Regions from separate parts of the Homo sapiens genome. Here regions 2 and 3 are each reported to be linked to region 1. Evidence: microRNA targets listed by miRTarBase, many of them from high-throughput screens and not tested one by one. Region 1 holds a microRNA gene; each other region holds the end of a gene's coding sequence.
What was found. Region 1 holds the annotated microRNA hsa-miR-4292 (CCCCUGGGCCGGCCUUGG, at 2,589-2,606, opposite strand). A microRNA usually pairs through its seed, bases 2 to 8, with sites in the 3' UTR of a target mRNA and lowers its output. Matches are read on the target gene's strand: a 7mer-m8 pairs with bases 2 to 8, a 7mer-A1 pairs with bases 2 to 7 and ends in A, and an 8mer does both.

Region 2: miRTarBase lists NIPA1 as a target of hsa-miR-4292. The part of its 3' UTR that is shown has no 7-base or 8-base seed match.
Region 3: miRTarBase lists CLMN as a target of hsa-miR-4292. Seed matches in the 3' UTR shown: 7mer-A1 at 3,651-3,657.

The regions. Positions count from the first base shown.
Region 1 is chr9:136,828,425-136,833,601 of GRCh38, reverse strand. MIR4292 (microRNA 4292) reads right to left here and starts at 2,645; the gene lies at 2,579-2,645. It overlaps RABL6 (RAB, member RAS oncogene family like 6), which reads right to left. Exons shown (of 15, transcript NM_024718.5): 4 at 5,056-5,108; 5 at 4,118-4,209; 6 at 1,741-1,881; 7 at 1,232-1,337.
Region 2 is chr15:22,823,532-22,828,531 of GRCh38, reverse strand. It overlaps NIPA1 (NIPA magnesium transporter 1), which reads right to left. Exons shown (of 5, transcript NM_144599.5): 5 at 1-4,804. The coding sequence ends at 4,293. Among named protein-coding and RNA genes, the nearest start is that of NIPA2, 13 kb to the left of the region's middle. RefSeq lists an enhancer at 891-1,643.
Region 3 is chr14:95,187,323-95,192,322 of GRCh38, forward strand. It overlaps CLMN (calmin), which reads right to left. Exons shown (of 13, transcript NM_024734.4): 13 at 1-4,410. The coding sequence ends at 4,242. Among named protein-coding and RNA genes, the nearest start is that of DICER1-AS1, 32 kb to the left of the region's middle.

The sequences.
Region 1 (5,177 bases):
CGAGGAGGTTCAGGTCCCCAGACCCAGCTGGGGCAGCCCAGGGTGAGGAGATTCAGGTCCCCCAGACCCAGTCGGGGCAGCCCAGGGCGAGGAGGTTCAGGTCCCCCAGACCCAGGCGGGGCAGCCCAGGGCGAGGAGGTACAGGTCCCCCAGACCCAGCTGGGGCAGCCCAGGGCGAGGAGGTTCAGGTCCCCCAGACCCAGGCGGGGCAGCCCAGGCAAGGAGGTTCAGGTCCCCCAGACCCAGGCGGGGCAGCCCAGGGCGAGGAGGTTCAGGTCCCCCAGATCCAGCTGGGGCAGCCCAGGGCGAGGAGGTTCAGGTCCCCCAGACCCAGCTGGGGCAGCCCAGGGCGAGGAGGTTCAGGTCCCCCAGACCCAGCTGGGGCAGCCCAGGGCGAGGAGGTTCAGGTCCCCAGACCCAGGTGGGGCAGCCCAGGGCGAGGAGGTTCAGGTCCCCAGACCCAGGCGGGGCAGCCCAGGGCGAGGAGGTTCAGGTCCCCAGACCCAGGCGGGGCAGCCCAGGGCGAGGAGGTTCAGGTCCCCAGACCCAGCTGGGGCAGCCCAGGGCGAGGAGGTTCAGGTCCCCCAGACCCAGTCAGGGCAGCCCAGGGCGAGGAGGTTCAGGTCCCCCAGACCCAATCAGGGCAGCCCAGGGCGAGGAGGTTCAAGCCTCATCATTTGCTGGGCTACTTTGCAGCCACAGCTGGCCTGGCCCTTGTTTCTACAAAGGAAAGTGAGTTTAGTCCGTAGGCCAAAGTTGGTTCCTTGGTTTTGACACAAGCACCAGGGAAATGTGAGATGTGAACAGCGAGTACCTCGGTGACTCACGCCTGGCATCCCAGCACTTTGGGAGACAGGTGGGAGGATTGCCTGAGCCCCGGAGTTTGAGGCCGCAGTGAGCCATGATTGCGCCACTGCACTCCAGCCTGGGCCACACAGCAAGACCTTATCTCAACAAACAAAAACAACCAAAAACACTGGGGGAAACTGAGCAAGGGGTCCCCGCAGAGGTGGAGGGGCTCCTGGGACTGGGTCTAGCCCTCAGGACCCTGTACCCTCTGCCACCCAGAGCAGGCAGGTGCAGTAGAACGCTGGGCCCTTGCCAGCAGCCAATCTCCGAGCAGGTCCACAGCTTTCTCAGGGGTTAGGAGGGAGACCCGTTGCTACACAGGAGACACCTGGAAGGAGGTGAGAGACCAGCAGCCACTCCACCCCACGTGGTGAGTGCTTACCTGAAGCTGCAAAAATGGGATATTGAAGAACTTATGAAGGTACTTTAGGCCGAAGCTGTTCTTCATGGAAGACTCAGCATAGCGGAAGTAGGAGGAACCTGGAGGTCTGCTTTCAGAAAGGAAAAAAGATGCAAGAGAAAGACCCTTGCCCTGGTGCCAAGGATCACCCCTGGGCCCACAGCTGTGGGTCCGCACTGCCCTCCCTCCTCCTGCAGGCTCCTGAGGCCACAGGACCCTGCTGAGCCCTGCTAAGCAGCTAAGCCGAGTGCCCTTCTGCAGGTGACCCCACAGTGCCAGCACTTCACCCTGGCACACAGTTCCCCAGCACACAGTTCCCGGCCCTGCCATCGGGGAGACCCAGGCTTCAGTGAGCCCCACTCAGCGGCGAGACCCACATCCGCCGGGCCCCATGCTAACGTTAACCCCTCCCTGGGCCTCTGCCTCAGCACCCTCCCCCGCACACCGGAGCACCGGGCAGGGTCCCTCGGGAGCAGGGCCACCGCACCCACCTGTCCAGGTTGTCGATGAAGTCACGCACGTCGTCCGGCAGGATGACTCGGTGCTCGCCCATGTCCCGGTAGTTTCCCAGCACGCACACTGGCACGTGGGTGGGCACTTTTGGAAGCTCCCGGAGAATGTAATTGAAGGTCCTCGGAGAACAGGTGAGGACCTGGCTTAGTTTCAGCCCTGCGACGCCCTGTCCCTCCCTGGAAAGGTGCTGTGCGCCCAGGCCCGAGGATGGTGGCTGCTTCTCATTTCCAACATCCAACCCAGCAGAAGCATGCCTCGTGCATGCAGAGCTAGAGGGAAGTGCCTCGAGGGCCTTCGCACCCCTCAGCCTGCAGCCCCCGCCCGTCCCTCTCCCTGACGGCAGGTACTTGACCGCACCCCACACTGGAACGCCCCTGCCTGTCCCTGCCTTCCCTCAGAGCACCCCATGTCCGCATCCCTACAAAACCACCTCTGGCTTCATCTGTGTCCACCCTCATTCCGCACTGTCCTCTGTGCCCCTTGGTGTCGACCCTGTGGCTGGTCCTCCAGGCTCCCTGCCCACCGGGGCAGCCGAGGACACCCTGGGGTGCCTCTGCGGCTGCCGGTGAAGCGGGCTGTTTGGAGAGCCTTGTCTTAAGCAGACATCTCCTGGCACGGACGGCAAGTCTCCAGAGTCTGCCTGGCGTGGAACTGCCAGTTTCCCAGCTGCGTGGTTTTCCAAATGGCTTGTGAAGAAATAACCAGCGCTTCAAGTGACAAAACTTCCCCACGACTGAAAGCCAACATAAGGGAGTAAAAAATGCAACATCCTGTTTCTAACTTCATTTTCTTTCATTTACACGCAGTCATTTAAACGGGCCCCTCACCAAGGCCGGCCCAGGGGCACCTCTGGCCTCCTAAGCAGGTGGCCTTCTGGTGTCTCCTGCCTCTCGTGGCTGTGAAGGGCCTGCGTGGTGCTTGAAGCCGCTGTCTGAGCCAGTGTTTTCCATCCTTCCTGCTGGGCACCAGGGGCTCCAGACAGAGCATTGCTACCATAGGCATCGCCTGCCCAGGCTGGTGCTGCCAACAGGGTCTCCGGGCCCACAGGTAAGCGCCTTTGCCGCGTCTTCTCAGGCTGGCTCAAGTCTCGCTGTCACTCCCGCCCACTCCTCGCACGGCAGCCCAGGCGGCTGCAGCTCCCTCCAGGCCGTTCCTGTGGCAGCAGTGGGAGGTGCCGTGGAGGCCACACTGTGTCCACACTCAACTTCGCTTGGGAAAAGCCACTTCCCACCCACCAGGCTGGCCTGCTGCCTAGACAGGAGAGGCCGGAGGGAGAGGAGCACCACTGCTCGCCCAGGTGAGGCCAGCGTGTGCGCCCGAGCTGAACTCGTGCCCTGGGGTGGGGCCGCCAGCCCCGTGTGTGGTTCTCCTGCCATCCGTGTGCCACACCCCCACCGAGGGCTCTCCTGAGGGTGCCTGCGGTCAGTCCTTGGTGGTGGTGCTGAAGGCTGGGAGGGCAGGCATGGTTCCCAGCATTGGCAAAGGTTGGCAGAGGCCCAGAGCATGGCTGGTCAGGTGCTTCAAGCCGCCCTCAGGCCTGGGCTGCTGATGCGTGCTGAGTGTGCGGCCCCGTGACAGGCGGTACGCTTAACCCTGGTGTGGGGGTCTTCCCAAGTAAGAGAAGCTGCTGACTAGGCCCCCAGGCCAGACCCACTGCTGGGAAGAGCAGATGCCTGGACGTGTCGGGCATGCTGCTCCTGGTGCTCCGGGCACTGGCTGTGGCTAGGAGGGGCCCTGCACCAGGACACTGGTCTTCACGCGGCCCTCGTTCTTCTAGGAGCCTTGTGCCAAGTGTGCGTCCGCAGCACCCCCCCGCTGGGGCTCCGGTGCGTCCTGGGGGACACTGCACTCCTGAGGAGCTGAGTGGATCCCATGCGACTCCACAGTGGACTCTGGGGGCTTGCGCCTGGTCCCCCAGAGATCGTCCTGTGTGCCACTGCCCTTAGCTGATTTCGCTGTCATCTTCTTGCTAGAATGAATCTTGGCTGTGGGTCCTCCTAGGTCATGAAGACGGAGGTCGCGGGGAGCCCCCAGCACAAGCAGCCACTTGCTTCCGCCAAGTCTCAGATGGGTTTTCAGGAAGAACAGTGGGGCTATGGAAGGTGCGTGCCTTGCCCCAGATGCCTTTTGCAGCCGGCCCACGCCATCCCGCCCCATAGGCACAGGCATAGTCGTTGCCCAGCCCGACATCCAGGCCAGTGCCCCTTGTGGCTGAGCTGCCACAGCTGCCCAGCAAGAGTCCCTCGGTCCTGCAGAACGATGCTGCTCTAACCATTATCTGCTGCACAAAGAGGGCGCCCAAGGGGCTAGGGGGGTGAGAGTCACAGGCAGCTGCCCCCGCCAGCTCCCTCTTACCACTGCTTGGTAATGTCGAACATCATGACCACCCCGTTGCAGTTCTTGTACACGTCCAGGAACTCAGCATCCAGGGCCATTTCAGACTCCGCCTGGGGACAGGAGGGAACAGGTGTGAGACTGGCCCAGGCTGGGCCCCACCCGTGTGGCCCACAGTTTTAGAAAAGGCTGGATAGTCTTCTAATCTGAAAAGATAACAGCCATTTCCATTTGGAAACGATATGCTGAAGAGATGGGATAGCTAAACATAGGTTTGCCCCAAAGGGTCTGACGGTCAACACCAGCCTCGCTGATGGCTCCCTGAACAAGCCTCCTACCCAGGACCTCCCACTGATCACAGCAGTGTCCGCCCCAGGCCTCACGGATAACCAAACCACCACTCGAAAATAGAAGTGGGTGCTGGACTACCAGCTGCCCTCAGCTAGATGTGCGTTCCGGAAGGTTCCAGTGCCCACAAACAGGGTTAGCTGCAGTGCTGTGGGCAGAGTCACTCCACCCCATGCTCTAAAGGGAGTGGGAGGCACCGCACGGAGAGTGCGAGGCCCTGGGTGTGTCGGGCTCAGGTTGGGTTGGCCCCAGGTGGCTCCGGTGAGCGAAACTCACGCCCATGGCGCTGCGAGATGTGTCCTGTGCTTTGAAGGGCCGAGCCCACCGAGACTGGGATAAAAGTTTGGCGAGTTCACTTAAATACCTCTCAGGTCACTCAAATGCAAATAGGGGTCAGTCCAACGTGATGTCTGTCGAGTGCAGGTGAGCCGGCCACCCCCAGATACAGCCATGGCAGTGTGGGGTTTTCAGAGCAGTTGGGAAGGCCAGCGGCCCCCGTGGCCACAGCATAACTGGGGTGGTTGGGGTCAAAAGCGTGTGAAGCGCTGGGCACCGGCTCACGCACCCCGGGGCCCTGAGCCACTGCTACCCACTGTGTACCTGGCACTCACCTCCTGGGGGTCGTTCTCCATCTTTAAGCCGTCGCCTCGCTTTTTGCATTTTCCTTATTTAAAAACAAACAAAAATTACGAGGTGGAACCCCTGGGCCTTGGGCCATAGGAGGAGCATGGTC
Region 2 (5,000 bases), not on the chromosome of region 1:
GTGGGCCAAATTCTCACTGCTGTTCCTGTAATTCTGAACCTTTTCAAGTATACAATGGAGGTATAAGAATCTGGCCAGATGTGAAACATCACCTATAAGCTAAAGGACAGACCCTTAAAATTCATCACCAGTACAATTGTGAGGTGGAAATGAGGAATACAAAAAATTGAGGTATTTTATATGATAAACTGTCTTGTGGTGTGACTGGTGTACAAATTGGTCTTTTCTTTCCAACTCACATTAACAGAATCTACCTATGAATATGAGTAAAACCTATGAAAAATGAACACGGATATGTCCTTGGGAGGAAGGTCACTGTTAAGGAGTCAATGATACATTTTTGGTCCCTGAGAAGGCAAAACACCAAGACTCCATCCAATCCCGCCTGATGGACGAACAACGCCCTCGGTGTCAGACACCATGAAAAGAACAACTTCAGAACACGGAAGCTAATCCATGCTGTCGGGAACAGACCTTACACTGAAATGTTCTCTTTCTAGTTTCCTGCTTGGTGGCAGGAAGCCTAAGTCAGCATCGAGCAGGTGTCAGGTCGAAGCGGCACAACGGGAGGGGCTCTGGGAACCACCGGAGTACTCTCTCCCCTCTTCTGGGTTAGCTGAGCAGCTTGAAGAAGAGGAATCCCCCGACCAGACAGAAGGGCAGCAGCCTGTGCCCATCACACCTGTTTCCACGGACCAGGTGTCCGTGCACACCTGGGAGACACTGCATCTCCAAAGTCTAGAACTGGCCCCTAGAAGTTGAGCACAACATTTACAAAGAGCTGAGTCATCTAGGAAGAAGGAAAATAAGACGACTGCACAAGTGAACAGTGCTCACTTCTACCAGAAAACAGATGTGAAATCCAAAGAAGAACAAACACCAACATATTACCGCTGGGATGAACTTCTGGAAAGACAACTGGGTGTAGTAAATTGGCTTGAAGAGCAGGAATTGAAAGAATATTCCTTATTGCTGAACAAAGAGCTGCGAAGTATATTCACTAACATTCTGATAGGAAAAGATCTCAATGAGAGCTGAGCAAGGCCACCAGAATACCAAATTCCTCCCCAAAGTCCCCAGCATGGGCAGGGCCTCACTCCATGTGGCACTGGAAGGACTTCCCTCCCCAGCACCTTCTCCACAGAGATGGCATGGTCCTGCCAGCCGGGAAGATGCTCCAGGGGGGCTTTGTGGTGCTGGGTTAGGGTTAGAATCCTTAATTGGCCCTACCTTTGATCAATGAGCAGAACAGGAAGCAATCCTTTCAAATGCAAATATTCAGAGGAGAAAACAAGGCATTGCCCAAGAAGAGGAGAGAAATAGCCTATTTAAGTATCTATCAAGAGAAATCTGCATATTGTGATCAAAACCTTTGATTTTAGAGGATGCTTGAAAACAAGTATACAGTAAGCATCTTTTTTTTCAAAGAATAGTATGATAATGAAAATATTTCAAGTACATGTACTTTTGGAAAGACCACTAAGAGATCTATCCATGTTCTAGGCCCTCCCCCAAAGTTCTCACTTTGGGGCTTTTTCATTTTCAAATGAATGATGAAAACATAATTTTTTAAAATAAATACTATCAAATCAGAAGTTATATGCTCTATATTAAATTTGAAAATTAGACTGTTCAACCACTGGTCATGTCATTTACTTTGAGGCTGGTGTCACGTGCTTGAAAAACAATGGATGATATGAACTTTGTTTCACTGGAAGAAAAGCTATGTATCCTACTGAAGTATCTGCTGAACAGAGGTAAACCTGAAAGATTCTAACTGTCCCAGGACCAGTCACCTTCAAGGGTAGAAGAGCTATTAATACTTTTGAGATTTTGTTTTACTCTAAGAATATTATAGAGAAGATCATCGGGTATCACCTCTCAGTATCAATGGTATAATTGTGGATTAAAATATACTAAGGTACACCAAGAGCTGCCTTTAAACTAAATTTCCCACAAAAGCTGTAGCAACACAAACATGATCATTTTCATGTGACACATGAACTTTCTCATTACACTTGTTAGCCACATGTATTCTTTGAATATCTCACACCCCTTACCTAGGAAACTATTTTTATGCCCAAAAGTATATTGATACTGCTACATTACGTTTTCAGAAAGTTCAGTTCAGTAAGTTAAGGCCTGCATTTCTAAAAGCACTGATGATAAAACACAAAACCTGCAAGAGCCAATAAAAAGAGTAATGGACTTTGAGCATTTGTTAACCATCCATTGAGAGGATTTAAGATTTTTAAAAAATAATGTTGTTGCTGCTCTCAGTTCACAAATCACTGACAACCCATGATCATCATGTACACGTTTACTCCATAAAGGTATTTTTCTCTCTATATTAAACTAGTCTCATTTTATTTAGCCTCTTTACTCAACACTTTAGGAAGCTATTCCTTGAGACTTTAGAAATGTTCTTTTTGCCTACAAAAACACATTTTTTTTCTTACTGAGGAACTTTAATTGGGTACTATTCAATTTTATGTTCTACTTCACCTAATCTACTTTACCCAACCCCATCTTTCAACTTGGCGTAGTTCCCTGCTGAGATAAAACACTGGCCATGAAGTACATGATACCGTGGTGAAATATGTGCATCACTTCATGCTATGCTCCCATTTGGAACACATGGATGGGAACACTATAGACAGAGAATGACCTCTTTGATTCAAATACTGGCATAATTAATGGCTCTTTTGCATTTAAGACACATAATGAGAGGTTAGCTGAGGAACTCTAGGATGCTCTGCCATTGCAAACAACAAGGAGATGGCTACATTTATTGGCTTTTTGTTAGAAAATCTTTCAAAAACTGCATATTGCAATTTGTAGAAGCTAGCCTAACCTCAATTGTGTCCTTTAACTTGTTCCTGTATGACAGGGTACTCGATATATGAGCTATTGAACAGGTACTCTCCCACTTAGCCTTATTATCAAGTTACCTAATTTATTTCTTCTGAATGGCCATGAATGCTTGCTGATAAAGAATGTGGATATATTTGATACTGGATCCCAGGTAACACAGATCGAATACAAATAAAATAATACCTCATGCTACTTAAATCAACTGTCTTTAATTGGACAATAATCACATGTTAAAGGGGTCAATTTGCTCTAATGTGTCTTTAGTCTTGACTATCTTCCAGTGAATATACAGTCATGAACCACGTAACCATGTTTCTGTCAAAGACATACCACTTACATGACGGTGGTCCCATAACATTGTAATACCATAGTTTTACTGTACCTTTCCTATGTTTGTAAACACAAATACTCACCACTGTGTTACAATTGCCTGCGGTATTCAGTGCGGTCACATGCTGTACAGGTGTGTGGCCCAGGAGCAACAGGCTGTACCATCTGGCCTGGGTGGGTCATAGGTGTCCCATCTAGGTTTGTATAAGTGCACTCCATGATGTTCACACAATAAAGTCACCTTACAATGCATTTCTCAGAATGTTTCCCTATCATTAAGTGACATGTGACTGTATTATTTCTAACTGCCTTATACATTTGTAACTTGAATATTGAAATATTAAAGCATACTCGAAGTTGCATTATTCTAATCTAAGAACATATACACATTAAGAGTCAAATTAAGTTAATAATTCAAGTGATAAAGGCACTGAAATTGATTTGAGCTATTGAAAAGTCATCCTGCCAGTGGAACACTACCTCATGTTCATTAACTCTTCTCTCTCTCTCTATTTACTATTAAAATGTCTTGGGTGGGGGTGGGGGTCGAAGAGTCAACTTGTCAGAGGATTAAAAACAATTCAATGTATATGCCTCTTATTTGGATGACATACTTGAATGTTATACATGCTTAATGCAAACTAACACAACTACAGACACATTCACTGTACAGTGCCAGAGTTCAAGACAACAATCTCTCATTCCCAAAGTAATCTAAGTAAAAATATCTCTGCTATCATGTAACAACTAACCAGAAAGAGCCCATCTTTTTCTGTTTAAATAATGTTAAAATGTTTTAAAAGAAGAGAATATTCATGAAAGCTTCCAGGTTAATGGAAATGAAAATGAGATTCGTCTCATCAGAGAGAGATGGTGCCAGGCAACCGTTGGGGACGTTTGGGCTGCAGAGGGCTGGCTGGGCCTCTGCTCTGGTGCTGAGCCATGCTCCCCGCTATCCACCAGACCACCTGTTACTATCCAGTCAATTCTAACACCATGATCGAGGACCTCTTCTACTTCACATCCAATCACGGCCAGAAACCACCTCCAATGCCTATTCCTCGAACCATCCAAGCTCCTATTGCAATCTAGTCTGTTTTCATATTAGATTTGTTCATCTCCCCAAGGTTGAAATTGAACTCTTTGAACACCTGTATAAGGACAATCCCCACGGAGACGGTCGTGAATCCACAGGCCATCCCCAAGAAGTCCACCAGGCCCACGTTGCTCCACTCCCGGAAGAGGATGGCTGAGGCCAGCAGGACCAGCGTGGTAAACACGACGTAGTAGATGGCCCCGAACACCGAGGAGTCGAAGCACTCCAGCGCCTTGTTGATGTACCTGAACTGGACGATGATGCTGCAGCCGAGCACGGCCAGGAGTACCAGGCACAGGCAGAGGGCTCTCTGACTGGACGGGTTGTTATGCAAGATGTCTTGGGCCGCCAGCCCGATGCCCTTGGTGGAAGGCACGGTGAAACTGCCCAGCAAGGAGCAGATGCTGATGTAGACCATGATGTTGGTGGGCCCATGGGCCGGCGCGATCCAGAAGATGAGCAGCAGCAGCATGAGCAGCACGATGCACAGGTAGCCCACAAACACTGGAACACAGACAGCACACAGTCACCCGGAGCCACCGCCTAGCAGCCGCAACCCAGGAGGTGGACTGGGGCAGCACCCGGGCCCCCACCCGCCACCCGCCACCGGCCTCTACTGCGGCACAGCCCTGGGGAGCATGTGGGCTCTGGCTTGAATTTACCAGACCCACTGATTTCATTCCACAAAAGTATTCCCATC
Region 3 (5,000 bases), not on the chromosome of region 1:
AGAATACAGAAGAGAACAGTAAGCAAGAGCTAGCAACCTATTTATGCAGGAATGGAACTGATGGAAAAGTGAGCAGGGAGGGGGATCCTAAAACCACATGCCTGCAGAGGGGAGGCCACAGAGTGGTCAGCAGAGATGCCCTGTGGCCTCCAGGAGAGGCTTGGGGATTGGAATAGGAGGGATGGGGTGAGACATGGGGCTGAAGACCAGGGCATTTATTGGCTCTGAGGTCCCCTGTCCTTCCCATGCAGCCAGATGACCACTGTGCTCCTACTCCATGGAGAAATCAGAGCAGCTCCAACTCAGGGACACCAGGCACAGCAAAGGTTGAAGCAACTTAATGAAAGTCTAAATACTCACGGGTGATGAGGCTGCCTGCTCAGCGGTCAGGACTCGGGCACACTGAGTATAGACCAGGGTCTCTGGATATGGTCCTACAGTTGTGCATTGCACAGAGGCACTTGGCTAAAGAGGGCAATTAGGAGTTAAAATCTAGCCTTTTCATTGTTCCTCGAGCATTGTCCAAGCTCAGAGCTGGGTATGTCTGGAGGAAGGGGCAAAAGGTGTCCTTTGCCAGTCAAGCCAAGTGCTCATGGGGACTTCTGCCCAGATGGGACACCATTTTTGAAACCACATGAGTACTCAGCATAGGCTAAAAGCCCTGTGTATGCCCGTTTCCCAGGAAGGAGAGTAGTGGGAATATCTCTCAAGAAACAGAATGAGCCCCAGAGAAAACACGTGCAAATACTGACAGGCAGTGTTCTCCAATGATGAGTCCAGGTGCCCACCTGGTGACCCTAGTGGAAAAGCTCACCAGTTGGCACACACAACTTCCAATCAGCTTTTGGATGCCTCACTCTTAAAACATGAACAGATCCATAGGATCACCATATATTTGAGAAAAATTCACAACGTGAAAGATAGAGACTGAGACCACCAAAATAAAGAGAACTCAGAGAAAATGAGGGCAACACAGGGAGCAGAAAAGACTTCCCCTCAGACCACAATCATTAACGTCCACAGAGAGACAAAATCTGCATCCACGCATCAAGAGCAGGACACTGTAAAACAAAGACAGGATAATAACCAAAGGTTTTATTAACTTGGAAAATAAAAATTCAATAAAACATTCAGATTGGGAAGATAAAAATGAATAATTCTTCCTGAAAGCAGATCAGAAACATAGACGAAAAATAGAAAAGATAAAAAATATTAGAGCATCAGCCTGGGTGTAGGGGAGGGTCCAACATTGAAATAATAGGTGGTCCAGAAAGAAAGAATGTAAATAATCACAAGAAAATTTAAGAAATTTCCCATGAAGGCCCAGCACAAGGTTTAACACCCGGGATACAACACCATCATGACAGTTCAGAACACCAAGAATAAAGAGATCTTAAATGTTTCCAGGAAGGGTGGATAAAAAAACCTAAGTCACATATAAAGGTACGGGAATCAGAATGGCATCAGAAATCTCAACCAGCACGCTTGGGAGGGGCTAGGGGAGGGTATTATTTTCCACCTGTCATTCTATGCTCAGCCACATTTCTGTTAAGGGCAGAATACAGACATCTTAAGTCATGCAAAAATCTCAAAATATTTACAACCATATTTACTTCCCATGTTCTCTTCCTCAGGAAGTTATTAAAGAATGTGCCACACCAAAAAAAAAAAAAAAGTAAAGAGAGAGAATAGCAAATTAATGGGGACATTTGGAGGAGAAAGGACATGTAACCATAACACACTGCTGGGCTTGGGAGTCAACAATCCTTAAGTGCTCCAGGTAATGTCAACACCTAATAGAAATGTACTAAATGATGTGATCTAGCTATACTGGAAAACCAAAGCACGGTATGGTAAGAGTGAAATCCTCCTCTACTGTGACAGCAAGCCAGTAGATGTTTCTAAATTAAAAAATAAAGTGTAAGCACGTTATGTAGAAATGCAAACATAAGAGAGTTGAAAGTGGTTACTTCTAAGCAGCGAGACTTAGGGGACTGCTAGTTCTTGTTAAAAGCCTTATTGTATTTCTTTTAATTTAAAAAAAATTTACAAGCAATGGGGTGGTTTGTCCTGCAGACTTCCACATCCATTTTCTATATCCAGCTTCTTCCATAGAAGCCTATACTCAAATGAGATTTTTTTTTCCTTTGCAAAATATCAGTTGACTGCCAACCTGAACCAAATGACTTTCAGGCATCTTGCCAGTAGATGTTTTAAACAATATTACAAGTTGTAATAGGTGAGAGAAGTATCTTGCAGAGGTTTTTCTGAACAAGGTCTAGACCCATAAAATGAAATGATTCACATTTGGGTTGGCTCTTCCCAGGCTCTTCGAGCATCTAATTTAGGCAAGGACTGCATGGTGCCCAGAGTTATAAACTATCACATAATCTTTATTATCTGTACCTTTGAGCTTTCATTGATGCCAGGGAGCTCATTAATTAGCTCATTTTCCATGGGGCTCTTGGCCTTCCAGATGGAATCACTCCAAGCTCCCAGCAGCTTTCTGGTTGGAAGGCTGAAATTCTTTCAGGAGGGGAGACAGACTATAATCAGACTGGTTTAGAGGCCAGATTTTGGCTGTCATCGACTCAGATGTGCTATGTAAATTCTTCTGGCCATGCTGGAATTCTGTAAACTTGAAACCCACTGCTTGAAATGAGCAAGTCCTTGGCTAGCAAAGAAAGAAACGTGATTCCTGGAGTAAGAGCGACGCTGGTATGTCAAATGACAAGCTGTTGCAGCTGTCAAGGGTATTTCAGAAGGAATTGGGGATGAGCTTGAAGGTGAGTAAGAATTCCTCATGGGAAAAATACAAGAACAAAACAAATGTCGATAGTTGGTCTAAACTTTTTGGTTTTGCTTGAATGTGGACATTTTAATCTAGTCATTTTATCTTTTTCTCAGGACATTGGTGTGCCCAGTGGAAGTTTCCTACAAGGGGTGACAGCTCTGGACAGGGCATCAGGTGCCTGTGTGCTCACTGCAAGTCTGCCCCTGGTCGGCTATATGATCTTGGTCAAGCTGCTCTGTCTCTCTGGGTCCAGCTAGACAAGATGCTCACTGAGTCCCCTCCTGACTCATTTGTGATTTTATAAGGGTTGCCTGGTACATGCTTTCTGAAGGGGAGAGCAAGGGGAGGAGGAACCAATGCAGAGACTCACCACGGACCTGAGTCTTGGCAGGGAGGAGAGAGCAGAGGGAGCCTGGGGCTGAGGAAGACTGGGGGCAGGGGTGCTAGAGATGCCTCTCTTCTTTCACAAACCTCCTGTGCTGGCCTGCTCCCGGAGTGCTGTCCAGAAAGCCTCTTCAAGAAACCCATTACAAGTGACCACAAAGAATGCCCGTTCCAAGACATGCATTCTGAGGGAGGTGTGCACCAAAGCTTTAGTGGGCAGGAAGCTACCCCACCACCCAGCTCCAGCACTGCTGGGAGCTGATTCCAGCCCAGCCACTCCTCATGGCTTTTATATGGCCCTGCTGGGCCCTGGCGATCTGGTTTGAAAATCATGGTTCTATCTCAATCCAATCAATGGAAAACTGAATTTCAAGTGTTATCTCCCCTCAAACAAAAAACAAAACAAAAAAACAACAAAAAAAACAGGGTGAAAAAGAGCACACAGTGGCTCTCAACACAGCTTTCACCTTCCTCCCTGGATTCTGCCATTCCTGGATGTGCTTACACAGAGCTGGCTGCTCGGATTTCCCCTAGTGAATGCAACCAGTTACCGGACTGCGACAGGTGCATGGACCCCAGCACCTTCTCTCAAACACCCACGCTTGGAGGAAAACGTGGCAGCTCTCTCCCCAGCTGGGGCTTGGCCTGGGGTGCCCACCCTCTTTCTCATTAAGCAGCCCTTCATCTGAGAGGTAAGAAACTCAAGTTCATCCAGCGTGTGAACCTGCAATGTGGGGTGTGCTAAGATCCAGGCGGGCTAATGATCACTAACAATGCTCCCTATCCAACCCAGCAAGGCACACAAGGACAAAACCCCACCTACGGATCCAGCTGCATGCCTGAGTTTTGAGTACACAGCCAAAGAAAAAAGCATGCTCAGGTTGTCCAGAAAAAAAAGGAAACCTGAAAAAAAAAAAAAAACCACAATAGCGAGAAAGGGGGTCTAAGTTTCCTCGGAGGTCCTCAACTGTCTGTAGAAGTGCCCCACCCAGAACCCAAAATAAAATGAAGTAACCCCGCCCCTGGTCAGGGTCCTGTCTTTTTTATTATCCAGACACACGTATCAGAGCCTGCTAACATCCAGTTGTGGGAAGAGCAGCAAGCAGTACACCAGGAGCCACAGGAAGAGAATAAAATACATCATATCCGGCTGCTGGACAAGCTGTGTCAGGGAGTCACTCTGCGGGCTGTGGCTCCCCAGTGACATGGCTTCTCCTGAGCTGTTGGCCTTCCTACAGAAGAAACACAGAGGAAACGCAGTTACCAAGCAGGTTCCCAGGAAAGTGGACCCCACCCAGTGCTACCCGTCTCTCCCCGGCCCCCACTCCCCGCCTGAAGACCCGAAGGCTCCCCAGCACCATGTCCAGGTAGGCCCCACACTGTGTGTACTGGCCCAAGGCAGTGCGTCGGGCCATCCAGGCAGCCCCTCGAGCTTTTGCACGTACTCCGTTCATCTCCATAACATCAGGTGAGAGGAGGTGGCAGCCCCATTCTGCAGATGGACACACTGAGGCTTTCGGGGTGGAGTGACTTGCCCAAGGCCATGCAATTAACTTGGCGACAGAGAGGGCGCCTAGGCCAGGTCTCCTGGGACACCTTTCTTGATGCCACAGTGCTCTCAGAGAGTGACACGGAGTTAGATACTGATCGCTTGCTGCTGTTTGTTAGTAACGCAGGGGACCCCATAGGTCATCTAAGGGATGAAGTGTCCCTAATAGCAGATCATTTTAAATCATCTATCAGAAAGAAACAAAGACCTCTCCCATTCCCCACAGTTTTGTTTTGGCTTTGGAATATTACCTTTAAAATAATTACTAGATTT